Homo sapiens: one gene and its partner. The protein of the gene in region 1 interacts with the protein of each later gene in a biochemical or structural test. Each region holds a gene or a part of one and is shown in the gene's direction. Other genes may lie near its edges. The genes, in order: SRGAP2 and ROBO1.

The links.
Region 2: the proteins of SRGAP2 (region 1) and ROBO1 interact in a biophysical measurement, tested with the Homo sapiens proteins (one study listed by IntAct).

The regions. Positions count from the first base shown.
Region 1 is NC_000001.11:206,447,914-206,463,289, forward strand, and holds part of SRGAP2 (SLIT-ROBO Rho GTPase-activating protein 2), read left to right. Parts: intron 1-2,472; coding exon 2,473-2,552; intron 2,553-5,286; coding exon 5,287-5,467; intron 5,468-6,230; coding exon of another isoform or gene 6,231-6,243; exon of another isoform or gene 6,244-6,964; coding exon 6,965-7,111; exon of another isoform or gene 7,112-7,859; coding exon of another isoform or gene 7,860-7,878; exon of another isoform or gene 7,879-8,246; intron 8,247-10,457; coding exon of another isoform or gene 10,458-10,496; intron 10,497-10,709; coding exon 10,710-11,034; intron 11,035-11,671; coding exon of another isoform or gene 11,672-11,761; exon of another isoform or gene 11,762-11,766; intron 11,767-13,123; coding exon 13,124-13,507; 3' UTR 13,508-15,376. UniProt on the Homo sapiens protein: Postsynaptic RAC1 GTPase activating protein (GAP) that plays a key role in neuronal morphogenesis and migration mainly during development of the cerebral cortex. Regulates excitatory and inhibitory synapse maturation and density in cortical pyramidal neurons.
Region 2 is NC_000003.12:78,660,710-78,676,085, reverse strand, and holds part of ROBO1 (roundabout homolog 1 isoform a precursor), read left to right. Parts: intron 1-5,784; coding exon 5,785-5,990; intron 5,991-7,520; coding exon 7,521-7,602; intron 7,603-7,783; coding exon 7,784-7,952; intron 7,953-8,036; coding exon 8,037-8,203; intron 8,204-13,971; coding exon 13,972-14,093; intron 14,094-14,824; coding exon 14,825-15,056; intron 15,057-15,376. UniProt on the Homo sapiens protein: Receptor for SLIT1 and SLIT2 that mediates cellular responses to molecular guidance cues in cellular migration, including axonal navigation at the ventral midline of the neural tube and projection of axons to different regions during neuronal development.

The DNA.
Region 1 (15,376 bases):
CCCACCTGTTTCTTGTGCACTCAACATTTATTAGCAGCCTCTGGAAAAACCACAAGATTAGTCAGGGAACATTACTACCGCAGACTGTGTGGGAGGCTAGAAGCACCTGAGGAACAAGAGTCAGCAACCTTGGGTTGAGAGGGACCTTCTAACCGCTGGATTCACACCCACCTGGAAGGCTCATGGCCTCTCCTCTCCCTTCTTTGGGAAGTGAGAGAAGTGCCAGCCCCGGGAGCTAAGGCAGTAAGGAGGTGAGTGAGGGTGGTAGAAGGGGAGATAGAGCACTAAGAAGAGAATGGAGAATGATCAGGAGACCCAAACAGCCATGGAAAGGAGAGCACCAGGCCACATGGCCTCCCCACAGCTGTGGAGAGGAGAGACAAATCCATTTCACCACACTTTCCAGTCCTGAAACTGGAACCGGTTTTCTAGGACTACCGGCTGGGTGGCATGGTGGACTGCTCCTGAGACCTCAGGTATTTTTGGGTCTGGTGGGTGCACAAGAGCAAAGGCTGGGGATGGAGTGTGTTTCAAGAGAAGCATAGGATTTTAGGGCTAGAAGAGACCTCAGAAAGCATCCTCTTGCCTTTCTCATAAAGCAGTGGTTTTCAAAGTGAGGTCCCTGGACCAACAGCATCTGTGTCACAAAGGACTGGTTAGAAATGCACGTTATTTGGCTCCACCCAGACCCAGTGACACAGGAACTCTGAAGATGGGGCGCTGTTTTTTAACAAGCCTTCCATGGCTCGCTGAAGTTTAGAACTGTTGCCTTACTGGCTGGCTGTGTAAATAAACTTGAAGCCCTGAGGGAAAGTTTGCCTTTGAACCTCTCCCCCGCCACCCCCACCATCTCAAAGGTTTCCAGAACATTACAAAATTCATCAGATTCATCAGATGGTTTTTAGCCCTAGAAAACAGTGAGAAATTGTGCCTACATTTTTTGACAAAGAGGAATCTCCGTTTATATTCTTCTAGAATGTTCTCTGGAGCCTGGGAAACCTCCTTGGAAGTGACTTGCTCTACACAGGATGAGTTCTGAACTGGTCACCCAGTCTTTGAGGAACTTCCCAGGAGTGTAGGATCCATCCCATGGGGAAAGAGGCTTGAGGGTTCCAAGGTGGAAACTGTGCGGCCAGGCTGCCAGGCTGAGTGGGTGATGGTGCTTTCACACAACTGCCTGGAAAGCCTCACCTGTTACTGCCTACTACCAGAGGAAGAACTTTAGAAATGAACAGTTTCTCTACTTTTCAGGAAGTAAGAACTTCCTGGTGCCCATCCTCATGAGTTCTGAAGTCCATGAGCCAGGAGATCAGGAATAGAAATGACTTTCCTAGTAACCTCTCTATCATTTCTCGATTCCTTACACTGGATGATTTTTTTTTTTTTTTTTTTTTTTTAGACAGGATCTTGCTCTGTCACCCAGGCCAGAGTGCAGTGGCACGATCATGGCTCACTGCAGCCTCGACTTCCCAGGCTTAACCAATCCTCCCACCTCAGCCTCCAGAGTAGCTAGAACCACAGCATGCACACTGGCTTTTTTTTTTTTTTTCTTTTTTTGTAGAGACAGGGTCTCATTAAGTTGCCCAGGCTGGTCCCAAACTCCTAGACTCAAATGATCCTCCCAAAGTGCTGGGATTACAGGTGTGAGCCATTGTGCCTGACCTACCCTGAATGATTTTAAATTTCATGAATTATTTCAAGAACTTGACCCAGCTTCTCTCCCCTGCCCTCCAACCCGTAATTGGATCCTGCCCTGTAGCCCATAGCAGATTATTCCTCCCCTACTTTTGTTTCCCACCCTCTCCTATGACTCACCTTCCACTTTTTCACCAGTTCACAGTCTGAACTGCAAAGCAACCTAGAGGCATCAAGCAAAATGAGAAAGAAGGAAAGCAAGTACTATTTATTAAACACCCACTCTGTGCCAAACTTGTGACTAAATTACTTTATTAAATCCTCACACAGCTGAGGATATAGATCTTTATCTTCAGTATATAGATGAGGCAGCTGAGGCTTAAGGAGATTAAATAACTTGCCCAGGATCACACAGCTACCAAGTATCAGAGCTGGTTTTCGAATCCAGTTTTATCTGATGCCGAAACCCAGTGTTTCCCTTCCACCCTGCTTCCCCTTTGAAAACCAGGAATGAATTCACATAGAGAATCAGACCTTGAGGAGTTGAGTTGTTCTCTATTTTCTAAAGAATTTAGTTTATACCTTCAAAAGGGCTTCCCTTTGTCTTGAGATATTCTAAGTTCCAAGTAGTCTCAAGTGGTTTTTGTAGCAGGAGCTAGACTGGAAAAACTCTAGAGCTTTGTATTTCATTATAAGCATTTGTCTATTGTGTGCAGTTAGGATATAGAGAGCATAAGATGGATTCAGTGCCCTCGCGCCAGGGAGGCTGTATGAAGGGGAAGACAAGAATTTTATGAGCACATGTTAATGTCCCTGTCACTCTTGCTTCTGTTGCAGTGATAGCCCTCATGGAGAGACTACCTCGGTTGAAGACTCAACCCAGGATGTGACCGCAGAGCACCACACGAGCGATGACGGTACGAGGCCCTGCTTCCTGGTCAGTGGGGACGCCAGGGGTGAGGCAGAAGGAAGTGATTATATATCCTGTGCATCTGATGAACCTGTCTGCCCAGCGGTCCCCTGAGGGCAGGCAGAGAGCTCCCTGTCTCAATTTCATTCCCTTCCTTCCTTGGAGAGGTAGCCCACCTTCTCAAATAGAATCGCTCGTATTAAACCAGAGGTGAAGAACTAGGCCTTTCATAGCCCTTCAACCTTCTTGCTCCACCTCCCAGCTCCTTGTCTGGCCTGAGTGCAGCATGATGTTGGTCCCTTATCATAGCCTAGACTCCTGCCAGACAGCTGGAGAACAAAGTGAAGGAAAGTACATTTGAAAAACAGTAAGCAATTGGGTGTGGTGGCTCACACCTGTAATCCCAGCACTGGGAGGCCCAGGCGGGAGGATCACTTGAGTTCAAGAATTCAAGACCAGCCTAGGCAACACAGCCAGACCCTGTCTCTTAAAAAAAAAAAAAAAATAGCCTGGCATGGTGGTGTGCAGCATCCCTGTAGTGCCAGCTACTTGGGAGGCTGCGGTAGGAAGATCCCTTAAGCCCAGGAGTTCAAGGCTGCAACAAGCTATGATTGTACTACAGTACTCCAGCCTGGGTGAGAGAGTGAGACCCTGTCTAAAAAAAAAAAAAAAAAAAAAAAAGTAAGCCTGGGGTGGGAAATAGCAGAGCTGGTTGCCCGGAACCCAATAGAAGCAAGCCAGAGGGAGTGGGAATGAGGATGCAGAAACCACATGCTTTCACGCCTACCGACTGGAAAAACTGACCCTTTCCAAAGTACAGACATGCGAGTGCCGAGCAGCGTGGTGGGCGTGCATCAAGGGGAGGAATGCTCAGCTGTCATCCTCAGGCCCCTCAGCAGTGCCCATGCTTTATGAGGGTCTGTCCAGCCAGCACATTTCCCCCGCTTCCAACAGCTCCACACCTCCTCTGGATCACATGGGCTCTGGAAGTCTCAGCAGCTGACAAGGGGCCTCAGAATTTTCTGGGCACAAGAATGAAATGGCAACAGTCTGTGGAGTTTTCCCTGTTCCCTGCCTTGCTGGGAATTCTGCAATTCTAGGCCAGCTTTCAAAGGAGAAAAAAAAAAAATAGGACTGCTTATTTAGATCCTGATGTCATAAGGATCCATATGATCATTTGCTACATTCGAGGAGGGGAGTAGGTGAACTAGGAAAATGAGTAGTGGGTTAGAGCCTACCTCGTGGCCAGCTCTGCTAGAGGCTTTATATATGTTATCTCTTAATCTGTAGTGAAAAAGATATGGCCGCTATTTTACAGTTGAGAAAATGCAGGTCAGGGAGGTCGAGTAACGTACCCGAGGCTGTAGAGAACTAACTGAGGTGGGTATATTTAGACAGGCCTTCTCTGACCAGCCTCCTATAGTGAAATCTCCAACCCCTCCTGTGCAGGAGCAGACCCACCAGCTAGGGCCATCTAGGCATGGTCTTATTTTTAAGCAGCCTTTCTCTCTGCTTCCCAGAATAGCCGACTTTCATCTCAGGTTCCAGCTTTCTGGGAGCCTTCTCTTTGCTCTTTGATCTCTACCTGCAGCCTAGCACAGACGAAGATAATGATAACAATAAGTCATGCACACATACCACTTACTATGGGCGGGACACTGTTCTAAGCACTTTTACAAATTGTAATTCATTGACTCTTCATAACAACTTCATGAAAAAGACACGATTATTAATCTCCATGTTACAGATGAGGAGACAGAAGCCCACACAAAAATAAAGATAGATTGCATTCGTAGACCCCTTTTACTTTTTTAGATTACTTTCATGTGCATTTTTTTCATAGGTTGGTCACAAAATATATTTTCATATTTTGCTCCTTGGAAAGTTGATTGAGCAAGTTATTTTCTCTTTATAGAGAGACAGAAAGCTCACATTCTACTTACTAGGGGGAATGGATAACATAAAATATTTAGAATACATGTATGTATTCTAAAAAATGTATGATACATTTTCTACAATTACTGGAATTATTATATAATTAGAAAAGAAATAATGCTTAAAAATATAGTATGGCAAGTTTGATGATAGACGTCAAGGCATGAAGATCTTTGGAAACACCAAAGAAGTTACTGTAGAAAGCAGGGGATGCGGTCGGGCGCGTGGCTCACGCCTGTAATCCCAGCACTTTGGGAGGCCGAGGCAGGCAGATCACGAGGTCAGGAGATCAAGACCATCCTGGCTAACATGGTGAAACCCCGTCTATTAATAATACAAAAAATTAGCTGGGCGTGGTGGCACACGTCTGTAGTCCCAGCTACTTGGGAGGCTGAGGCAGGAGAATCGCGTAAACCCGGGAGGCAGAGGTTGCAGTGAGCCAAGATCGAGCCACTGCACTCCAGCCTGAGCGACAGAGTAAGACTCCATCCCAAAAAAAAAAAAAAAAAAAAAAAATGGGATGCTTGAGTTGTGTTTTGATGTGCTTCATCAGGCAGATAAGAGAGAAGAAGATTCCTGGTGGAGGGAACAGTGTGAGCAAAGGCAGGTAAAAGGTGATACCAGTGCTTTCAGGATAATGGTATAGTCTGCGTGAGAATTACTTGCTTTATAGATCATCCATGGCTTCGTTTTCCCACTAAGTAATTTCCTACCACTGTAAGTTCAGCTAATTCAGCTTTTCCACCCAGTTTCCTGAGTCTGCAGGTCCCAAGAACATGTGTTTACTTCTTTTCCACCCTTCTCAGAATGTGAGCCCATCGAGGCCATTGCCAAGTTTGACTACGTGGGCCGGACAGCCCGAGAGCTATCCTTTAAGAAGGGAGCATCCCTGCTGCTTTACCAGCGGGCTTCCGACGACTGGTGGGAAGGCCGGCACAATGGCATCGACGGACTCATCCCCCATCAGTACATCGTGGTCCAAGACACGTACGTTGGGCCCATGGCATCTTTGGGGGTGGTCCCCAGCTGCTCTATGGGAGTGAGACTTCATTTCTGGAGCCATAGGACTATGAGGGAGGCCAACCCCTGGGGGGTCCAGTGCAGTCCTGAGGCTCACACAGTTCCTTGAAGAGCACCCCCCCCACCCCCCGCCCCACTCCCTGCACTCAGTGGAGAATTTTTTTAAATCTCTCCACTATCTGTGCCCCCTGCAAATCACCCCCTAATCCAGTCATTTTAGAAACCTGCCAGCCAGCCAGCACTCATCCATATTTATACCTGATGAGTGATAACAAGGGGTTTTTATTTGACCACCTATATTTCTTTTCTCGAAAGATCAGGCTGGGAAAACATTTTTGTTACTCTCTTTTTTTTTTAAACAACTATGCTCACCCCAACCTGTTGAGCCACTCTTCCACTTGCAAATTAAAATGACTGGTTTTCTAGGAGAAATCCGGCTTAAGCAGCCTTATGGAAGTGACCTAGTTCATTTAACCGAGATGAGGTTGATATAGGGTAAGATGGGGGAAGGAGGGAAAAGGATGTCAAGGAACAAAGGAAACCTGAACTGGTCCCAGAGAGATCTCATCTGATAGGCTGTTGGTTGATTCTCACACTTTGAAGCAGTTGTCCCGTGGGCCCACCCAAGCCTGCCCCCTGTCCGTTTGCCCTGTCTCTGTCCCCAGCTCCCCTCCCTTGGATACGATGCTGTCAGTGTTTTTAGTCCTTCCCTTAATATTATTTTTTAAAGGTTGATATCCTGAGTGAGTCTGCACCCTCCCAGCCTCTTCCCGGCTCGTTCTGCAGGGAAATCCTCCCTCTGTTGATAGCATCGCAAACCTGGTGGCAATCTGTGCGTGGACAGGACCCTCCCAAATTTAGCATTATGACTTCACCACAGGATCAAGAGAAGATGAATTGTGGGGGAGAAGGGGCTTTCTTTGTCATCAGTAGCCAGAGGGGCCAGGAGAGCAGTGGAGAGACCTGGGACCGGCTTGGATGCTCTGAGCGGGGCTAGAGGCGCTACGACAGTGTGTGGCGGTGTCCTGCCACGACGCCGCCGTCTCCAGAGCCACCACACAGTTGACTGTCCTTACCCGGCAGTGCTCAGGACCTCAGCCGATAAACCACAACCTGGACTTGCCGCCTCCTTCTCCAGGAGGCCGCCCCAGCACGGCCTCCCCAGGAAGCAGCATGGGGTAGAAGGCAGATGCCTCGAATCCAGGTGTCCCCTAGCCACGCTTTCCTGAGGAGCTGAGGAGCCCGCAGAACTCAGCGGATTATTTATTTTTATTTAAACGACCCTTCAAAGGCCCTTAGGTTTCCTTGCCTCTGCTCACAGAACTAGTCCAGCCAGGTGTCGCTGCTGCCTCAGAGCTGTGTGGGGTCGCGTGTATGTCGGGGGGCCATCTTGCCGATTTAACGCTGCTTTTTGTGTTGTTGTTGTTTTCCCTCCTCCCTGCCTGCCTGCCCCTTCTCCCCCAGCGAGGACGGTGTCGTGGAGAGGTCCAGCCCCAAGTCTGAGATTGAGGTCATTTCTGAGCCACCTGAAGAAAAGGTGACAGCCAGAGCGGGGGCCAGCTGTCCCAGTGGGGGTCATGTAGCCGATATTTATCTTGCAAACATCAACAAGTAAGCTCTGCTTTTCATTTTCTGCTCCCCTGAATGACTTGCAACACCCAGCCTCACCCTCTGGCCTAACCCCCATCTCCATTCCTGTGCTGCACGTAGGGCTCCCAGCTCCCCCAGCCTAACAGTTTGCATGTGGTCATTGCTGCTGCAAGGCGGACAGGGCTGAGGATGCTGCTACAAGCCTCGGGGCAGGTCCAGGTCTCCAGCTAGCTGCCCTCGTGCTGTGGAAGGGTGCTTTACTGTGTGTTCCCGCAGTGTCTGTCCACCCAGACCTTTGTGGCAGTCTTACAGCTAAAACTTTGACCAAAGCTTTGGTCACTTTATGCAACCTGGTTTTGTACTGTTTCTCAGAGGTGCCTTCTTTTTTCCAATCCATACTCAAATAATAGTCTTTGATGTCTGTCTTCCTTGACCCGTGTTCGTGCAAAGATTCAGAGTCTGTGTGTGGCTTCTACTAGGCTGATGTTACACCAGGTGGGTTTATTGAGATATCATGTGTCTGTTCCTCCCCCTGTCCTGCATTCACTCCTGTGGAGGAAAGGAGGCCACGATGTCCCTAAGGAAAGCTTTGTCCTGAGCTCTTCATTCATTGGCTAACCCCTAGCTCCCTTTTCTTCTGCCCTTTCACACCAGGAGAAATAATTTTCCATTTTGTTCCTATTGCTTTGGCCTTTTGTATTATTCTACCCCCTTAGTCCCTTTGCAGATCCCCACTCCTGCTCAGCAGGCTCTTACCTCTGACCCCCAGCTTTCATTGTGGCTGTTAGCAACATCCTGGGGTTTAAACTCCACCCACGCCCGATCTGGCTGTCTAGAGGGATTCTACGCCTGCGTGCTGCCGCCTCCCCAAGAGGCATTCAGGTTATTGGAGAACTAATCTCATCTCAAGGGGCCAGACACCAAGTCCCAAAGCCTACAGACCTCTTTCCGCCAGGCCCTGAAACCTGGCCCCGTGCCAGCAGGATGACAAGCCCCAGGGCGCTCCTGATGAATATGGATTGGAGATGATGTACAGTTTTTATTCCCCTCTGGCTTTTGAGGAATGAAATGATTTGCACTTTGAAAACCTGTTAACCGTAGCCTCTGGACACTGAGACTGGAAGGAGAATAAAGGATGCTTGTTGTTTTTAAACTATACCAGGTTTCCCAGATCTCTTGGCTTTTTTCCACCCAGACGGTAGCAGGGGGAGTGGTTGGGGCACGTGGCTCTTTTCCATCTCTTTCACCCTCAAGTTAGTAAAGTCGTTTATTCAGATCACTTACTCAGTGTAGTTATAATTTAATTCAGACCAGTTAAAAAAAAATTGAGAAGTTTCTGTTTCCCTCCAGCACACTGCCCTGCTGGGAGGGCAAGCCAATATCAAGTAACTGTGGGCTAATCACATTTTTTTCCTTATTTACAATTCTGTGTTAAATTGTAACCCTACAATCAAAAGGTCGTGATCCTATAATTAACTCAGAAACCAAGGCGGGGTTGGTGGAGGAAGAGTTAGATAATTAGTTAAGTACATATTTTTAAGCCATCATATATTTGATGCCATTTGTGCATAGAAATTGTAGAGAGTAATAACTGAAATGGTAAACAGAAGAAGAAAAAAAAAGAGTATCTGTAGACAGTTAAGGTGGTTCCCTTGAACTCCTTGTTTGCTGGTGTCAGGAGTCTTGGGATGGGGTTCTTGGAGGACAAGCCTCATCACCTGGTGGGTGGGTGAGCGGTGGCCCCGGGGCATGTCTGGCCCTTAGAAGTGAGTCGGCCTTTGAGTCTTACCTCCTGCCCCCCACGCCACTCCTCCTCCCAAATTCCTTGAGTTTCCCGAGTGCCCAGGTTCTCTTTCGCCCCTGGGCGCTCACGCCTGCTGTCTCCTCACCTGGTCACCTCCTCATCTCCCTTCAAGACTCAGTCCGAAGACTTAGCTCTTTGGGGAAGCCATTCTGACATCCCTGACTTCCCCAGGCTGAGTGAGGTGCCCTTATGCTGCATTCCAAAGACACTTTGAATACCTTTTGGTACTCACGCTTCACTCAGATCCCCCACCAGATTGAGCTCCTTGAACCCAGGAACTATATCTTCCTTTTCTTTACATCCCCAGGGCCTAGCCTGGGACATGGCACACCACAGCCACCCCATAAATCTGTCTTCTCAGCAGTTTCAGCCCATGAGTCAGCTATCCTCAAGCAGAAAAAGGAAATCAGCAAAGAGCTATTAGGGTGTGGCACTTCCATTTAATTCTACACATTTATTAAGTATCTACTGTTGTGCCAAGCACTGCTGGTGTTTATTCAGAGATAAAAAAGACGAGGTCCCTGATCTCAGAGCTCACAGTCTGGCAAGGTAAAGACCCTATGGACAGGTAACTGACAGGTAGCATCAGATGCTCTGAAGGTACAGAGGAGGGAGGGGTCCATTCTTCCTGCAACTGGAGTTAGTGGTGCAGTGGTGCCAGTGCAGTTGGAGTTAGTGGTGCCAGGGAAATCCTTGCAGAGAGGGGGTTCATTTCAGCAGGGCCTTAGAAGACTCTGAGAACATCCTTTTTCCACTCGAGAGCGGCTGAGTCACAAGCCTAAAACTGCCGAGTGGACAGACTCACGGAGTGACTGATACATGCCAGGTCCTGGGCCAGGCCCTGCAGGCAGAAAGATGAGGAAGACCTCAGCAGTGAACAGGACTAGGACTGGCTTAGAGCACTGTCCCCACCTCACAGACCAGCTCCTTATCTTCAGAGTCTAACCCCTTCCCTCCTTCCACCTCAACTCCTGCCTCAGCCCCCATCTCTCTTAGATTCAAGATCAGAGCTGTTCAGCAGCCATCCAAATCAGAAGTTTCATTGCCTCTTAGATTAGACCTTTTCAGATCTGATTCCAAGACAAAATGAAATTATCCAGCAGCAGGCAACACCCATGTAACTGGGATTCTGCCAAGCCATTTTGTCTGAGAGCCCTAAGTGGTCTGAAACAAATTCGCCCAGATCCAGGGTTCAGCCCAGTGCTGGGTGACTTGGGAGTCATGTAGAGGTATTTCCACACTAAGAAAACGCACAAACTGGGCCCCAACTCTGCAGTGTTGCTGCCTCTTGAAAACTATTCTGCTCCATGCCTACAGAATAAGCAACAACAGCCTCTTGCCAGAGCCCAAAACAGTTACAGTCTTTTTGGAAAAAGAGTCATGCTAAAATTTAGAAAAGTTAACTATCCTCTTACCAGCAATCTTGACCTCTTTGGTGATGGTGAGACTTCTTCTCCTAGCTGGGGCCTTAGGTTTCTGTTCATGGCAGGTCACAGAAGGGGCCTTTCCATGAATCTCTTTCCCATTAGAAACCTTCGCTTAATCAGACATTTTTTCTGACAGCAACTTACATCTTGACAACACAAAGCCCGTGACCACCAAGTAAGTATCCATTTCTCCTTCACCCAGCTTGGGGGTGGCAAGGGAATGAAGACATGGAGAATGCAAGAGAAGATGAAGCCGAGGAGAGAACGAGTTCTGTGTCCCTCTCCTTCCGAAGTCCCTGGGTGCCAACATCTGCCCCCTCCCACTTATCCTAGCTTCCTTGGAGCCAGGGCTCCCTGATCACACTGCCCTTTCTGTTTGTGATTGAAGGCAAAGGAAGCGTCCAGAATCTGGGAGCATCCGGAAAACTTTTCGGAGTGACAGCCATGGGCTGAGCAGTTCCCTGACTGACTCCTCCTCCCCAGGGGTGGGGGCTAGCTGCCGCCCATCCTCCCAGCCCATCATGAGCCAGAGCCTCCCCAAAGAAGGGCCAGATAAGTGTTCCATCAGTGGGCACGGGAGCCTCAACTCCATCAGCCGCCACTCATCCCTGAAGAATCGGCTGGATAGTCCACAGATCCGGAAGACTGCCACAGCGGGAAGGTCAAAAAGCTTCAATAACCATCGGCCCATGGACCCTGAGGTCATTGCTCAGGTAACTGTGGGCTCCTGGACAGACAGCATGAGTCTACATTCATCACTACCACTTAGTGCCACCCACCTAATTATGACAGGACTTGAAACAGAATGATTATTTTGTATGTGATATACTGAGTATATGTCCACTCTGGACATGTGGACCCAATAAGACAGCTTAATAAGTGGTCTGCCTGTCCCTCTCTCCCCAGGAAGAACCTAAAGACAGAATAAAAGAAGCCTAGCTTCTTGCTCATACACTGGCTATTAGGAAGGCTGTTGTAATTTTTAAAGCCGGTATTAAGAGTATTTTGAAAGCCCAAGTTTTGAGTCTAAAGACCTTGGTAGACTTTAGTGAAACTGCCCGACTGTTGAGGATCAGGTGTAATCCTGGCCACATGTTTATATTGCTGTGCCCATCACCATCATCCCGATTCCTAAGGCTAGTCTCTGGTACCGAATGGGTAGATGATCAATTAAGAACCTGCACCTGGTTTTAAAGACCTAAAAAATACTCTGGCTGCAGAGAGCTCTGGTAACCAAAAGGATTTGCAGCCCAAGCCTCCAGAGGCTATGGAGATGAGCTCCCTGGTTGCAGGGTCTTCCTTCTGTGTATGCACCGCACTGATGACTCTCTGTTTTCCATGAAATATTAGAGATCCAACCCCACCTCTAAAAATCCGACTACCGGGGCCACTCCAAGCAGTTCACTCAGACGTCTCTCCCAACTATATAATTTTCATTAGACCAGGTAGGAACTAAGGGCTTATTGTTGCCTTCTTATCTCAACTGAGTTGAGATTCTCCTTACCCCATCTTCCAGGGGGTGATAGAGGCTGGGCATGGTCTCTCTTGGCTTAATTGTGGTTCTCTGCTTACGGAGATGTACCTGGCAAGCCCAGTATTGAGCTACAGGCCTGAGATGTCTTGCTTTGCTAGCCTTCTATTCTGTGCCTCTATTTAAGCTCTTGGCTGCAATCTGCCTTGCGCTACGGGAATCCTCCCAGCTCCCTCCTTGGCCAGGTGTTAATAGGAATGTCAGGAAAGGTAGACAGCTGGGACAGACTAGCTGTAGAGTGCGACTGAGGAGGGAGATGGAGTTCTTCCTGAGCATTTTAAAGGTTTGAGAATGTCATAGGGATGAGTGAAACTGAATCACTGTGAACAGAAAGCATGCATCGGTCTGTACGACAAAGAAACCTTAACCAAAGGCCTTCGCTTGGAATGTGTAAAATCTTTCCATGTGAACCTAATCCCAAGAAGAAATCCTGTGGTAGTTTGGGGGTGCCAGACACAGGTTTATGGGGAGGGAGCGGGGAGCTGGGAAGTCTCACTGGAAGGCAGCTGGCTTGCATACAAAGGTTCTTTGGTTCTGCCTTGAGTCCCTGGGCTAGGACTGCTGTTGGCTAAAGATCTAGAGTGTTCCATTGATTTGCAGGCAATTGATTCACCTATGTGGGCTTTGGCTCCCCTTCCTGGTCATTCTTTTGTCCCCTTGGTGGTGATGGCTGGAAGGAAATGGTTTCAAATTGGACACTGCCCTGAGTTGGGGAGGAGGGGCGGGGGGAGGCGTATTGGGCTCCTGAAACTTTCCTCAGCCCCTGAGGAGGAAGGACTAACCCTCTTCACCTTTGGCCTTGAAGTCCAAGAGAATAAAGATCATACATCATCTCTACCACTTTTTAAAAAAGTGTTTATTATGTACAATTTCAAACCTACCCAAAAGCAGACAGAACTGGATAACAAATCCCCATGTACTCATCACCAAACTCCTGGCCATTCTTACTTTGTCCGTGTTTCTCTTCCCCACTAGATTATATGTCACTTCGTCGATAAGTATTTCAATATCTATCTCTAAAACCTAGGGTCTCTAAAAAAATATCAATTACTTTTTCTAAAGGAAAAAAAAAAATCTCATGACAGTGAAAATCCCTCCGTCCCCCTTTCCCTACTTCCTGAGCATTCATATGTTCAAAGATTTAGGCCAAGTACAATAATCTGGACATCTTACGGTCATTTTCTTCATGCCTTGGCCTGTGTTGTTGAAACCGGCTCCTTGGGGAATTCTCCCCTCATTTGCCTCACCTCCTCCTTTTTCCTGTTTTGCAGGATATTGAGGCAACAATGAACTCGGCCCTGAATGAGCTACGGGAACTAGAACGGCAGAGCAGTGTCAAACACACCCCTGACGTGGTTCTGGACACCTTGGAGCCCCTCAAAACCTCCCCAGTGGTGGCCCCCACGTCAGAGCCCTCCAGCCCTCTGCACACCCAGCTCCTCAAGGACCCCGAGCCCGCCTTCCAGCGCAGCGCCAGTACTGCTGGGGACATCGCCTGCGCCTTCCGGCCTGTCAAGTCTGTCAAGATGGCTGCCCCGGTCAAACCACCAGCCACACGGCCCAAGCCCACTGTCTTCCCCAAAACAAATGCCACTAGCCCTGGTGTCAACTCATCAACTTCCCCACAGTCTACTGACAAGTCTTGTACTGTCTGAGGGATAATAATTTAATTGTTCTAGACAAGGGGACTATAGGGACTGACTGTTATTAAAATCTTCCTATTTAACTAGCTTGGGGACTTCAGTTGAAAATTAGGTTCTAAGTTGTTCTTGCAGGAATTAGCCTCCCCGTCTCCCAAAACCTTGAGAATGAAGCCCTTGGTATCGCCTCTCCCTTCCCACTGCCCTCTGCTTCCCCCAGTCGTCGTAATTCAGCCAGCTGCAGTCCGTACCGTTCTTAGGTTAGCCAGAGACAGGTTTTCATTATCAGGTCACTGTGAAATCTGGTAAGGCAGTCCTGAGGACATGGGCTCAAGTCTCAGTCCCCTCAGACCACGGTGATGCCTTGACCAGATGGTTGGCTACTGCCATCCAGCTTTCAGTGGCATCTTGTTTTGGGAACTGATTATAGAGAATCATATATAGTCCAGTCTTCATTTTACATACACACACATATTTTACACACACACACATTTTACACACACACACACACACACACACACACATATGTTTTTCTAGTCTCTGGCATGTGTAGCCTCTCCTGGTCATAGACCAGTCTCTTTGTAAGTTATTGTGGCAGTTCACACAGTAGCCACCAGGGGTCTCTGTTTCCATCACAAACTTTGTTCTGTCTGGGCCAGAGAACCTAGCCTTTGAAATCTCTCCATCATATGAAACATAACGGGATGGGACAATCCCGTAACCTGTTTGGGGTTGGGGGCTTTCTCTCTGTGTTCTTTCCATTGATGTGAATTGGTCATTGGTGTTTGCTCTTGCCTCTCCTCCATCCCCTAGAAGTACACCCCCGTCTTATTAAGGAGCTTTTAAAGTTTTTCTGAATGTATAGACATTTCTCGGGTTCCTACCTTTGTCTCTGATGGACCATTTTCCATTTAAGACATTTTCCTGTATAAGACAGTTTTATAGCTGGTTCCTTTTAGGGTAAAGAGTCTTAAGAGAGTTTTATTGTGTCTATGGCAGGTTTGGGAAAGGTAAGAAATGGGTCCTTTTTCCTCCTAATGTTTTTGGCACTTAAAACATAAAATTCATTATCCTATTAAAAAATTAAATTCAGCTTTGCTAATCCAGAAATTGTTCCCAAATGAAAACTTGTTTTAAGTCCACCCCTTAGTTTCCTTATTTTACAAGGTCTCTCTTCAGGGACCAACAGGGGCTTAGAGAGCCTTAGTTAGATTAAAGGGAGACCCTACCTCTTAAAACCAGTTTTCATTTATGCAAACAAGGACAATTAAGGGAACCCTGACCCCACAGGCTCTCAAGTCTTCCCAAGGCCAGAATCGAAAGAAAATTAAAATTTGAATGCTGAATATTCTGGCTCTACTCTGGCCTTTTTTCTGGTTCCCTTCCAAAATGCACAAATCATACCCTTGTCTGCTCCAATTCAGTCTCCAAACCTGGTGCCTGTGCTCCTGGCCCCCCTAGCATCATGCTATCCCAGGAGTATCAGGACCAGACACATCCACAGCCAGGCTCATGGGTCTCAGACAGCAACTTGAGTTAAAGCTGAAACTCATCCTTCTTCTCTGTGTTTTCTGGTTTAAAAGCTGCACTTATATTTTAGCCTTATTATTTTCTGTAGTTCCGGAGAGATGGTGGGTTGCCATTCTGGTAGGAAAATCTGAGTTTTCTTATCTTTGACCTAGAAGAGATTCTTTTTGGACCAACCTGCGAAATTGGTAGTTAGGTCTATGGAAAGTGGTAGGATTTTTTTTTTTTTAATCCTGTGCAAAGGAAAAGAGGTGCTTTGTGGGAAATCACTAATGAGAAGGCTAACCTGCAGCACCAGAGAAACCTTTCCAAGTGCTAGGCAGGAGAACTGAAGAACTCTTTCAGTGAAGTGAGTCA
Region 2 (15,376 bases), on another chromosome or scaffold:
CTAGAGGTCCACTCCAGACCCTGTTTGCCTGGGTACCAGCAGCGGTGGCTGCAGAACAGTGGATTTTCATGAACCTCGAATGCTGCTGTCTGATTGTTCCTCTGGAAGTTTTGTCTCAGAGGAGTACCCGGCCCTGTGAGGTGTCAGTCTGCCCCTACTTGGGGGTGCCTCCCAGTTAGGCTGCTCGGGGGTCAGGGGTCAGGGACCCACTTGAGGAGGCAGTCTGCCCTTTCTCAGATCTCCAGCTGCGTGCTGGGAGAACCACTGCTCTCTTCAAAGCTGTCAGACAGGTACATTTAAGTCTGCAGAGGTTACTGCTGTCTTTTTGTTTGTCTATGCCCTGCCCCCAGAGGTGGAGCCTACAGAGGCAGGCAGGCCTCCTTGAGCTGTGGTGGGCTCCACCCAGTTCGAGCTTCCAGGTGGCTTTGTTTACCTAATCAAACAACTAACTCGGCAATGGCAGGCCCCCCTCCCCCAGCCTCGCTGCCGCCTTGCAGTTTGATCTCAGACTGCTGTGCTAACAATTAGCGAGACTCCGTGGGTGTAGGACCCTCCGAGCCAAGTGCGGGATATAATCTCCTGGTGCGCCGTTTTTTAAGCCCATTGGAAAAGCACAGTATTAGGGTGGGAGTGACCCGATTTTCCAGGTGCCGTCTGTCACCCCTTTCTTTGACTAGGAAAGGGAACTCCCTGACCCCTTGCGCTTCCCGAGTGAGGCAATGCCTCGCCCTGCTTCGGCTCGCGAACTGTGTGCTCCACCCACTGACCGGCGCCCTCTATCTGGCACTCCCTAGTGAGATGAACCCGGTACCTCAGATAGAAATGCAGAAATCACCCATCTTCTGCGTCGCTCACGCTGGGAGCTGTAGACTGGAGCTGTTCCTATTCGGCCATCTTGGCTGCCAGCTGATTTTTTTTTTTTTTAATGAGTGGATGAAACAAAGAAAAAAGGAAAAAGAACTAGCTTTTGGTTAAGTGAGTATTGAGCACTAGGATTGTCTCTCTCAAAAGCTCAAACTCTTACCTCTGTATATGATACGTATTATACATGTACTGGCTCCAATAAGCTAGTATGACCTAAAATATTTTTATAATGTCTTAAGTACATTACAGCCATTAAATAATGATTGTGAAAGCCATATAGTGAATTCAATAATGACTACTATAACCAATATATAGAGACATTAGAACATAGAGTGATACACACATTAATAATTGCAACTTTGTAAAGCAACTTATATATAGGTATACATAAAAAAAGATTTTAGAAACCTATGCTAAAGTAGTCTCAAATATCTCCAATTTTTATAATTATAATTTAAAGCAAAGGTTTTCATGTGCCAACTGACATGACGTTATCACAAATTGCTTGTATTTGTGAGACTAGATCACGCATAGACCTTTTATTAAACTATAAAAAACAAAAACAAAATCTCTAAATATCTGTGAATTTGGGATTCTTCCCTACTAGCCAGTTCAACACTAAATGTCCTGTTTCACCCTGCAAACTCTGGGCGTTTTAAGGTGATTTCGTGTTTGCTGTTTTGGCACTGTTTTTTAAGTTTTGTTTGCTTTATTTTGGAGCTTATTGATATTGTGAAAACAATTTAACACTGTGGTCTCATTCTTCATGGGTAAAACTAGAATTATTGCAAGTGCTGGAAATACCGGTATTTATACATTAGCAAGTCCAGAGGATGGCTAGTAGGCAGAGTACTTTGGGGATACTATTCGTCTTTAGCTTCTTGACCTTCTTTACTGTTTGCAAACAGAACAAAGACAAAGGCAGAATCAAACATGAAGCACAGAAGTAGCAGCTGCCTTTAAAATGTTGTGTTGACTGTAGCTGTGACCTATCCCTAATAGCATTTGACTTAGAAACATACAAATTCATGTCTTCTATTTAACTGAACATCTTTCTTCTCTTTACTATAATATCAGAAGGTAAGAAAACAAAGTTAATGATTACTACATAATGTATAAAATTTAAAATCATTCGTATTCATCTCACAAAATTTATAGATACATAGTGCAAAGAGTGTTATATTTTATACAGAAAAAAGATTTGCCAGTTACTACTTGATTTGGACAAGTCACTTGAACTTCTAGAGTTTCAGTTCCCTGATTTCTAAAATGGAATAATAATATTTTATAGCCAAATTTATAATTTCCAAGATACAATATTTGCAGTTTGTAAATGGATGACAATTATGCTCTTTATCTGCGATGTTTATTGGTGTATAATGTGACTTTTTGTACGTGAACTAATCAATGTGTGTATATTCTGTTCTTTTTCTCTTAAAATTATTTCCTAAATATATTTATGTATATTAACATAGACTTCATGATCGCTATTTTTGAGGTGACAAATTACAACATTCTGATTATATACCCTTATTTTGGACGGGTTTTGAAGTCTTTCACTAAATGTGGGGAAAAGATAGCTAAACTTTTATAACCCTGCTGTAATATATGTGTGTATATATATATATATATATATATATATATATATATATATATATAAAATATATGTAACCTAGCTGTAATATATATATATTTATATATATTATATATTATTTTATATATTTTATATATTTATATTATATATATATTTTTATAACAGGTAGTGTAACCTTGCTGTAATATATATATATATATTTATAACAGGTGGTGTAACCCTGCTGTAATATATATTACAGCACCTGTTATACCTGTTACACTGCTTATACCATCACTACCTCCACCACTATTATTTTTATACTGACAATAATGAGCTACAGTGACTAATAACAAGTTATAGGATAAGCTTACCTAGGGCCAGGCACTATACTAGAAACTTTTCACACATGAACAATTTCAAATCTAACCATATCTCATTTTACCAGTGAAGAAACTGAGGCAGTGAATGTGAAGATGTGTACCCAACTTACAATGATAAGTAGCAGAACTGACATGTTTGCACCCTCCAATAAGGTAGCTACTTACCATATGGGGCTATTTAAATTTGAATTTAAATTACTTAAAATTAAATACAATTGCATATCCAATTCCCCAATTACTCTAGCTACACTTACATGTTCAGTAGTCACTTGGTGCTGTTGGCTACTGTATTGGAGAGAGTAGATATGGAACATTTCTGTTGTAGATATGGAACATTTCTGTTGTATGGTGCTAACATTTTCTGACTCCAAAGTCCGTGCATTTAATCACTTTGTTAAACATTTCTGATTCTTACACTTCCTATTTTATTTCTGGATAATTCATTCTAATAATTCCAACAGAAGATCCTAGACCTGAATATAAGGTTTGTCTCCTTCTAAATTAAGATTTGACTCATAAATGCAGTACATTCTTTGGTGTCTGTAAGTGTAAACATTTTACGAGTATTTTATTCTACTTCATGACATCAAAAACTTTCATTTCTCTACCTGGAAACATCAAATTGCTTTAATAAACCCTTAAATATTTCTCTTTTTTTTTTTTTTTTTTTTGAGACAGGGTCTCACTCTGTCACCCAGGCTGGAGTGCGGTGGCCTGATCAAAGTCCACCACTGCAGACCTAACCTCCTGGGCTCATGTGATCCTCCCACCTCAGTCTGTCAAGTTGCTGGGACTACAGGTGCACACCACCATGGCCGGCTAATTTATTTTTATTTTTATTTTTATTTTTGTGGAGATGGGGTTTTGCCATGTTACCCAGGTGGGTTTTGAACTCTTAGGCTTAAGCAATCCACCTTACTTGGCCACCCAAAGTGCAGGATTACAGGCGTGAGCCCCAGTGCCCGGCCAAATCTTTCATCTCTGATTTACATAATAGTTTTTTTTGTTGTTGTTGTTGTTTTTACCAAAGAGGACACTAGTGATACTACAGTACATAATATGTCTAGCCTTTTGCAATTAGCCAAGCACTCCCTTATCTGTTCCATTTAAATATGCATAACAATACCCTGCCTGAGCTATTTAGAAAAAAATATTATTATGCTTAGTTGATGGATTTAAAAACAATACAAAACTGAGGCTTAGAGAATTTAAGGAACTTGCCCAAAGACATATGGCAGATGCTAGAGCTGATCTTTTTCTTTTATTGCTTTATTTTTGTTAAGTATACATTGTAAATTATACCACAAAAATGGCATCAATAACTGGTTTGGGATGGAATGGGGAGGTGTGGATGACACTAAATAAAATACAAATATCAAAGAACCATAAAGATAGAGAACATTGAATATATTCCCAGATATTGGATTGTTTCTAAATATGATAAGACTACCAAATTTAAACCATTCTTCTACTGGACTTAATTATAATCAGTTATAAAGAATATTCCTTCTGCCAAGTTTCAAACTCTAGCCTTCTAATTCACCCCTTGATATTGCAAATTTCACCCTGGTAACCAAGACAAAGAAGAGAATTGGAAGAGTAGAGTGGAAATGCACAGCTGCTGATTTCACTCCATTGCTTTCCTGTTTATCTTTTCTTTTTTTTTTTTTAGTTTGCATGCACAAAACTAATATTTATTGCATGACAAATGAGGAGCAAATTGAAGTGTGACTCCAGCTTGTGAAAATCTTTGGTGCATAAAGCTTGGAACATGACAGATCCAGCTTTGAAAATTATTGCTTCCAAAATTTAGTTACTCTGACAACCACTTTTCTTTAACCAGGCAACTTAGAATCTTTCTTTGTACATTTGTGTCTTTTAAAAATTTTTCATTAACATCCAGAATTTTCAAGTTGAATATTTAAAGAAAATTTCTGAAATTTGGTTTTTAAGTCATTAAAAAAAAACTATAGAGTTTCATATAAATTGCCTAAGTCAGGGGATGGGAACACCTCTTCAATGTAGGATTTATTCTAGTTCCAACACAGTTGTTCTATGTTTTCCCCTAAAAAAGACTTCATGTCAGATAAAGTTTTTAGATTTTAGATTTTTTTCATGTAATCATAGGGTTAATTGTATTTACACATAATAAAATTGCCTCTCGTTGTTATTTTCCGTAGTATGTTATAACTATTATCTAAGGTAACGGAGTTAGCAGAGGCACATTCCCAATCCCATTAATCCCAATAGAGAAGTATGGTGTTTGCCAAGTTAGAACATCATTTTGACTTGTCTCTTTGGATCAGCCAAACAACAATGTATTTGGGCAATTTTCCAATTTCTTTGAATTCATTACAGTTGGGTAATTTTCTCCCATGTATATTGTAATAGAAAGAATTACAAGATAAAAAGACACAGGGAACTCAATCACACTGATTTATTAAATTACGAAATCCAATGCACTTTTTTGGATCCAAAATTGTTAAACATGCTGGTATGGTACCTTGTTTCTTTTTTTCTGTTGTACAAGTTATGAAATGTCAATTTGGCTTTGCTTCATTTATTAAAATTTATCTCATATGTTTCCTTGAGAGGAATGGTCTTTTTGTTATGTTGTGTTTTTTCATGTTTTTGAGTTTAAAAAGTACAGTATTCCATGATCACGTCTCTGTATCTACTTCACCATCCACAATCCTAATTCCCGAACTCTTTAAATAGGCCTCTTGACGATGCAGCCAGCTCAGTGAGTGGCTGGTCATTTGAAAGTAGCACATTGTGTCTCATTTTAGTATTCTGAATCAGTGCATCATATAAATGCATTTTGAATAATGCATGTCTGCTACTTTAATTACTTGTTTAATTATCTTTAGTTTGTTTCAAAGCCTAGAACAACTGCTGTTGCTTGGATGATTAGAAAATTGCTTCCAGTTGCAGAAATCTATTTCCTGTTGTTTCTTCTGGCAGTGATTGCAGATCGGCCTCCCCCAGTTATTCGACAAGGTCCTGTGAATCAGACTGTAGCCGTGGATGGCACTTTCGTCCTCAGCTGTGTGGCCACAGGCAGTCCAGTGCCCACCATTCTGTGGAGAAAGGATGGAGTCCTCGTTTCAACCCAAGACTCTCGAATCAAACAGTTGGAGAATGGAGTACTGCAGATCCGATATGCTAAGGTAACTTGGAATGGCACCTTGCGTTTCTTGTTTTGTTTCACTTTGTTTCTGCCTCCAACAACTGGCATTGAAATTTCTAACTTTGCAATTAATGAAGTGTTAAATGAAGAGTAGTAATATATTTTTAATTTGATGTTTTATTTTTTTCAGATATTTCATTGTATATGTTTGAGATGATTTAACTCATAATTTAGTCCATGGCAGGTAATTTAAGGTTGTATGGAGGAGAAGAAAGGATTTCTAAGAACCTACCGAGGAAAGTAAATGAGGGTTTGTGAGAGAATAAATATCTTCAAAGTAGTGGTACGAAGCAGTCCTTCCATAAAGCATCTTTTAAGATATTTACCTGTATCATTTTATGTGCAATATATTTAGATAGTTCTTCTATTGTAAGTGTTTGTTTCAGCATTTTGCAATGGCAAAACTATACATGCAAACAAAAGCCATAAAGCAATGTACACACCGAGTGTACAATTCAAATCAGAATGCTCAATGATGGAAAGCCCACAGGTCTGTAGGAACCATTTAAGGATTTACTTTCACAGGGCATCATATCCCATGCCTGCTCTTTCAGGACTTTATTGTTTTGATTTTTCTTCTTTTTTTATGTCAAGATCAGACGAGCTCCTGAGGCATATGAAAGAATAGTCCTGACAGCAATAAACATGAATTTCAGTTGCTTTATCTCCTAGTGTGGGTGGTTCCTTTGGAGTATTGGATCAGCATCACAGTTCACTTTAAGTGCCACAACAGTTAATATGTTGTGCTGCTTTGTGACTGTTGTGACTTGGTTCCTGCAATTGCCAGGGCAAGATGACAACATTCTTTCTTTATCAAATGTTACTTGAAGATAGTTATTAGCTTGAGCAGAAGTAGATGGGTTTATTATCCTGCTGCTGATTTCAAAGTTGAACATGTAACCTATGTTTGCCTTCTGACATTCAGTTTTTAAAAGGGAGCGAGAGTGTTCGTTCCAGCTTGAGTTTGGCTTTGTACTTCTTAAACTGCCTTAAGTTACAAGTTTTAAAACCCGGAAAAGTCAGTAGTTTAAGAAAAAAATTCTATGATGCCTATCCTTTTTCTGTTGATCTCATATATCCATATAGTTAAATATATAAGTAAAATATGAAATAGCAAGAATAGGCATTGGTTAAACTTTATCAGCCTTATTATATAACTTATTAAACATAAAGATATATCTTAGCCATAAATATTAACGCTCTAAATTTGAAGAATTGTATGCCTTACCTTAGGAATTATTGTCCCTGAGACTGATGATAATATATGCTAATGCAATTAAATATTTCTTATTATACCATTAGAACAATCATATAAAATCTTTTTTTCTATATTGATGTAATATTTTCCTTCACATTCAATAAAAATATATTCAACTAAGGGGAAGTTTCTGGTTAGTGAATTTTAATGCAGTTATCCATATTCATGGATCATATACAAACCTGTAATTGCTTTTCCAGCCCAGTGAGTTCTTGATTTTTCCAAATATTTATTTTTTGTCTGCCTTCTCAGCTGGGTGATACTGGTCGGTACACCTGCATTGCATCAACCCCCAGTGGTGAAGCAACATGGAGTGCTTACATTGAAGTTCAAGGTAAAGTAAATGGTGTGTTTCCCTTAAAGTGAAGCTTAAAATGCAGTTGTTTACTTACTGGGATATTGATGAAGTAAATGTCCTCTTCCCTGAGTAGGTGTATGAATATGTTATCTGCATTTATCCGCTTATCTGTGTATGTGTAAACATCTTTTATTTTGGCCTTTTTCCTGCTTTTTAGAATTTGGAGTTCCAGTTCAGCCTCCAAGACCTACTGACCCAAATTTAATCCCTAGTGCCCCATCAAAACCTGAAGTGACAGATGTCAGCAGAAATACAGTCACATTATCGTGGCAACCAAATTTGAATTCAGGAGCAACTCCAACATCTTATATTATAGAAGCCTTCAGGTAGAGTGAAGGAGATGCTTCCTAGTTGTTCTTTTTTGATTCTCCATTAAATACGCATGTTCTAACCTGTGTGTCTATCCTTAGCCATGCATCTGGTAGCAGCTGGCAGACCGTAGCAGAGAATGTGAAAACAGAAACATCTGCCATTAAAGGACTCAAACCTAATGCAATTTACCTTTTCCTTGTGAGGGCAGCTAATGCATATGGAATTAGTGATCCAAGCCAAATATCAGATCCAGTGAAAACACAAGGTAAATATTGATTTACTTAAACCTGTGACACCTACTTATCCTTAGATGTTATAATTGCACTGACAAATCACTTGTGCTACATGCTAGAATTGTACATTTACAGTGTGTTGTTCAAGTTGCCCAAGTTGCTTAATTAATTTTTAATATACAAACACAATGTCTACAAACTTTATTATTTTCTGGACTAAGCATACCAACATAAGATGGATTAACAAAGAGAACTGTTTCTCATAAAATTACAAATATATCAAGACAAAAATATTACGTGAGGAGATGGAAAGTAGAATGATGGTTACCAGAGGCTGGGAAGGGTAGTAGGGTGGCTGTGGGGAGGGTGGGGATGGTTAACGGGTACAAAAAAAAGAATAGTTAGATCTAATGAATAAGATCTAGTATTAGATAGCAACAAGGTGACTGCAGTCAATAATAATTTATTGTACATTTTTAAATAAAGTATAACTGGAATGTTTGTAACACAAACAAAGGATAAATGATTGAGGTGATAGATACCCCATTTACCCTGATGTGATTATTATGCCCTGTATGCCTATATCAAAATACCTCATGTACCCATAAATATATACACCTGTTAGTACCCATAAATTTTAAAAATATGTGAATATTTGTGTATTCTATTCAATTTCCTGAATTTTAAATATGGTAACATGTAGGTGTACAATCTTAATCATATTATAATTGTATTTAAAATTAACCAAATTTTATTTATTTATAAGTTCAGTACTCACAACCTTCTGGATGAATTTTTAGATTACAACCCTAATCAAATAATACTCTCTTGAGATCACATAAATATGAGAGATATCTGGATACCTTTTATTTTTGGAAAAAAATCACGTCATTGTAAATAAAATGTGCTTGTTTTTATATTAGTAAAGAAAGGTAATTCTAGAGGGGAGTGATTCGAACTATAAAATTATTTTCTCAACATACAGAGGGATAGTGTTTCTATCTTAAGGGAACAAAGGAAAAAAGAAAAAAAAATAGACTTGGTTATTTTAATAGAAACAAGTTATACACAAGATGACTGAGACTTAAAGTCCTTTGCTGCTGGTTTGGGAGAGGGGTCTGCCAGCCATGTTGCTGTTTTGTTACTTCAAGTATGTACAGAAACAGTCTTTTTGGAAGCACTTTTTGTTTCAGAATTTGCAGAAAAAGCACACCAAGTTGTAGAACATGCCCACGTTTGTCTCTTGTGTGAATGTAACACACCCATAGCTCATATTTGCTATTATGAATCACCTCTCCAGGAGCTTTACTATACTTGCAGCCTGCCTTAAGGCAGTCTGAGGTTTTTGATATTAGATACACATTTGTAAAGAATGTAGACCCAATGATAGCTATAAAATGAATTTAAACTTTTGTCCCCAGTACAGTGGTCTCCAGCCAGTAGACTCTAACTGAAAGGTTTTGATGACTAGAGCTTAACACCGTTTTGTCCTGTACTCACATGCATGATTCTGGAATATGTAACCTCATTTGTAAGTGAGCAGTAAGTTAGCATTCTGTCTGAACATTCATTTAGTCTTTTTAACATTTCTGTCAATTTGCCTTTGCATATGCATAGCTAGTGGAACAATGTATTAGTCTCTTCTCACGCTGCTAATAAAGAACTTCCCCGAGACTGGGCAGTTTATAAAGGAAAGAGGTTTAATTGACTCACAGTTCAGCATGGCTGGGGAAGCCTCAGAAAACTTACAATCATGGCAGAAGGGGAAAGAAACACGTCCCGGTTCACATGGTGGCAGCAAGAGGTGCCGAGCAAAAGTGAGCAAAGCCCCTTATAAAACCATCGGGTCTCCTGAGAACTCACTCACTATCACGAGAACAGCAGCACGGGGTAACTACTCCATGATTCAGTTACCTCCTACCGAGACCCTCCCGTGACACATGGGGATTAGGAGAACTACAGTTCAAGATGAGATTTGGGTGAGGACACAGCCAAACCACATCACTCTAAGTATAATGAATCCTTGTTAACTGGAATACTGGAAATATAGAGAAACAGGCATACAGTTGTGAAATCAAAGACTTTTTTTTTTTAAATTTCAGCTCCTCAATCCACTAGCTGTGTGACCTTGAGCAAGCTAGTCAGCCCTTCTGAGTTTCCTCACCTATAAAATGGGGCTAAACATACCCATTCCTCGGGATTGGACAAAGAATACATTAACCAATCAATATATAAGTATATAAGATTCAGATTTGTTTTCTGTTTTATCCCATAAAATCTGTTATTGGACTTGTATTTCTTTTAGTGTCAGGACTAAAAGTAAAGGAAGTTCATAAAATTTGTGGATGTCGTAAAACTGAGAAAGACAGCTAGTATGCCAAATAAGAGAATCAGAATTAAATATAACTCAACAGATTGGACTGATGGGAGAGTGCTAACTATTAAAGTTAATAGAGCAAATTAAAAAGTCTGGTACTTGAACTTGGGTTTAAAAAATTAGCTGTAAAAGGATAGACTAAAGACAGCAGGCTTACGGGAAGTATATGTGAGTGTGTCAGGGCTTTCGGAGTGATCTGACTTTAAAATAAAACACCCATCTGAACCGACTGACGGATACAGTTGCCAAGAGAACAAATGTAGTCTTAGCTGGCACTAGAATTATGCCTGGATCAAGTAATTTTTCTCTTTTTACTTAGAACTATTCAGTTCATGAATGGAGTAATGTGTTTGTTCTGGAGACTACATTTTCAGATGGACTTTTAAGAGGAGGACAGTAGGGATAGTCGATGAGGCCGCATGAAAGGCTGAAAATCACATCATATGAAAAGACATTCAAGGATCTAGGTATGATTAGGCCAGAAAATAATAACATCAGAGCAGACATGACATCTTTTCCTTAACATTTTAAGAGACTGCCGTATGGAAGAGTTATGCTTATTCTAGCTCGAGGCAACAGAAAAGGGCCCATGAGAAGAAGTAAAATTGAGGCACATATCTTGCCTATTCTTGGACTTCATTTGAGGCTGGAAGCCTTGGATTATAACTGTAATAAGAACCTGGGGAATCACCTGCAAAAATATTTCACTGGAGGGACCAGAAGGCAAACACAGCAAGGAGAAAAATGAGGGGTGAGGAAATTCAAGAAGGACTTGTTGGAAAGTGATTCATAAGGGAGCAGGCATAATTTCTCTAACCATTTCTGCAATGTGGTTGCAAAAGAATCTTCCCCAAGTGTAGATACTTAGAAATGAGCTGGGGTCAAAAGCTAAAGGTGCACAGATATAGGGCACAGGTTCCGAGTACAGGAGTCAGGTAGACCTATGTCATGGTTGGAGTTAGAGCCTTGTTATGTGGTAATCAAAGTGTGCTTTCCCAAAGACAAGATTTGATTATGCAAGGAAGATGAGATGAGCACCTGGCAGTTAGGGGTGGTGGTCATTGTGGCAGAGGTGCGGCTGTTGTTACCATTGTTAGTTACTATGATTCCTCACCCATGTGCCCTGTCTGTGTATCATTCTTGAGCCCTAGTTTTAAAAGAATCTATACAGATACATATCATACCTAAGATGATGTCAGTTATTATCAATGAGTGGGGCCTGGATAGGCTCCCCTCTGAGGTTGTGTATACGAAGTTTTAACGTTGGGGGAAACAGTTTGGCTGGAGCAATTAGGTCTTCTTTAAGTCTAATTCTGAATGTTGAGAAAGACCTTTTACATTGTCATACGTTTCTTTCAGGAGAAGGAGAACAAAAACAGTAACAGGATCAATTCATAAACTTCTCAAAATTATATTATCAGGTGTCACTTTCCCTTTTTCTCTCTGCTGTGAACATTTCTATTATAATGTTATAGACTGCTGTTGCTGTCATGGGTACTAGGTGGGAGAATCTAGCAATTTTCATGAAGGAACTGACTGGTAGGTTTATCTCAAATCAGAGGAATTTGGGATTGGGATGCAGATCATGGCAGTTATGTATAAAGTGGTTATTTCTGTATTTGAAGATACTTTCTGAAAGGGGGATGATTTTGTGAGGATGGGAGCTTACGTATGAGGGAAGTACTTGGAAACTGACATCATATGTGTGTTTTCCACACATGAATACATTTTAATTGAACCTATGTTTATTAAGCAACACCTATGTATATGGCACTATGCTATATACTATGGGTCCACAATCCCTGCTCTGAGGAAAAGCACTTTTTATGTCTTACCACAAGACAGCTTTTACCACAGCCCTCAGGATTAGCTGCCTTTGATGCCACCATCTGAAGCATAAGGAAACTGAAGAATAGTGAGATTAAGAAATTGTTCCAATGTTACGTGGTTTTTAAGTTGCCGAGGTGGGGTGCAAACCCAAGTCTGTTTCATTCCAAGTATTTCACTCTTATCCTAGAGATGGGTGACAGCTTGAGTCGTAGGAGCAATTGAGACCAGTGGGTAAGGAAGAGATGGAAAGGTGACAATCAAGTGTTTACTCCGTAGAGGCTGTGATAATAGTTATCCTGAGGGCAGGTCCTAACCAAAAATATTGGTAAAGGAAGATGAAGTATGGGATGCCAGAATTATCCCAGTTGTTTTTTTTTCATCTTGCTTATTTATCAGCTTAATTTCTAGGTTAAGTATAAAAACAACCAAACAATATGTAAGAGTGTTTGATATCAATCTCGATGTCATCTCTTCCACTTGCCTAGCTTCCCTGGACTTCATCCGAGATACTTAGCGATCTCATTCTTAGTATTCCTGCTTTTGCTTTCTACCCAAGATCAATTGTTTGACGGTATTTAATGATTCATTAAACTAAAATTCTCATTTTAATTTTTTTATGTAATGGGGAATCATCTGGAATGTAGGTGCCAAAATACAATTCTTTGAGAAAGAGAATTCTGAAGTCCAAAAAACATTTTCTTCACTTCCTCCCATGTATTCCCTGTTACTATTATAAACAAAGCAAAACATCTGTGTTTAGAAAACCGCTTCAGAAATGGGCAAATGTTTTTTTGAGTGTAGACTTTAAGAAGCTTATAAAAAAAAATTAACATTAGTAGCCACTTCATTCTTACTGTGTTCTTAGTTTCCTTCCTGAAATTTTGGGGCTTTTGAGATTAAGAACTCTTTATTAAACCTTCTTTACTATGATACAATAACTAAACTAAAGGATCATCAATTAAATAAACGTTAAGTACTTTTTTCTCATGAGTCTAATCAGCTTTATTTTATTTTACTTCCTTGCTGGCATCTGTATCACCTCCATTGTAGCCACTAACTTACCATATACCTTCCATGAGAAAATATCCAAGTTCATCTTAAAAGCTGTAAAGTATCTGCCTTCTTTCTGTTCTTGGTTTTCACTAACCATATCTCCTTTCTTTCCATTGCTTAGCCACTCTGCTACAATTTCAGTCTCTTTTCTGTCTTGCATAGTTAGGATCACTACAGAAGGTTTTCACAAACTCAGGGAATTGCCCTAGTGCCCTCATTTTCATCAGGAAAGTGATCGTTACATGATAGGAGGAGCCACTAAATGTTGTTATTTGCCATTGTTGTCTTTGCTTCCTGCTCTTTTTGCCTTTCTATAATATATGTCCTCTGCGTTCTCTCTACTCTCTCTATCCCCTCTTACTTTCCTGATCCTAATAAAAAGGTTAAATTATTCCTTTTTTTTTTTTTTTCCGAATCACAGCCTGGCTTGGACTCTTCTTTACTGAGAGTTGCTATGAATGAACAGTTTGTTTCACCATGCTTTCATTCCGTTCAGTAACGTTGTGCAGACCCTGACACAGTTTTCTTGACTTGTTGTAGATGTCCTACCAACAAGTCAGGGGGTGGACCACAAGCAGGTCCAGAGAGAGCTGGGAAATGCTGTTCTGCACCTCCACAACCCCACCGTCCTTTCTTCCTCTTCCATCGAAGTGCACTGGACAGTGAGTTGTTACAATATTTGATCTCAGTTTTAATAAGCGTCTGCGAGATCATTGCAATGCATATAAAATGTAACTATCTGTTGCCTACTTGTACATTAATGATAACTTTATAGTGTAAGCACTGTTTATTACAGTAGCTATTAGTTTGGTTTAAACAGAAAAACATTGCATCTTGAGCCTATTTTTTTCCTATTGTGCTGCAGTAGTGAACTTGACCTGTCTCAGGAAAGAAACAGATAGTATTAACTGTGTTATGTAACTTGTGATAGGATCATTATTACATGAATCTTTTAAACTTAGAAATATTTCCAAGTAGTATTAAGTAGGCTTTTAAAATCAGAAAATCATCAAACATTTTAGCTTCTCATCCCCTTGACCCAGGGATGTCCTACATGCAATGTCAGAGCTGCCATCAGGCCTCACATTTCTGCATGAAGCATAGAAGTTAATGCCACCGAAATTTTTATCAAAAGATAGTGGAATTTTTTCAGTATTCTACTTATTTGAATGTTTTAGCTGAAGATTCTTTTGGATTTTCTATGAGCACACTCATGTTGTCCACAAATAATGATTTTTATTTTTTCCTTTCTAATTCTTACACATTTCTTGTGTAAGAATGTGGGATGAAGCCAGACAGAATTTTGTGCATTTTATAACGTTTAATTTTTATTATTTTCTGATGAACCAATACAATAATATGAATAATTACATTTTACTTGTCTTTTTAATAGGTAGATCAACAGTCTCAGTATATACAAGGATATAAAATTCTCTATCGGCCATCTGGAGCCAACCACGGAGAATCAGACTGGTTAGTTTTTGAAGTGAGGACGCCAGCCAAAAACAGTGTGGTAATCCCTGATCTCAGAAAGGGAGTCAACTATGAAATTAAGGCTCGCCCTTTTTTTAATGAATTTCAAGGAGCAGATAGTGAAATCAAGTTTGCCAAAACCCTGGAAGAAGGCAAGTATGATGAAGCGTTTGATTTCCATGCATTGCAGTATATTTGTTAGAATTTTATTAGCTTAATTTAAATTGTTATAATGTTAATAGTGGCATTAATTACTAACTTTCTTGATATTGAACATACATTTTGCTAACAGTATTTGTTTATTTAGAAAACTAGAAAAGCAAAATGCTATAATAGTTGACTTGCTTCAATAGTGGCCTACCTCAAATGTGTAAATGTGAACATTATATTACTTAATGGCATATAGAAATTTAATTATTCAGAACTAAAATTCACATTTAAAAATGAAATTGTTTTCCGTTTGGTTTATTTT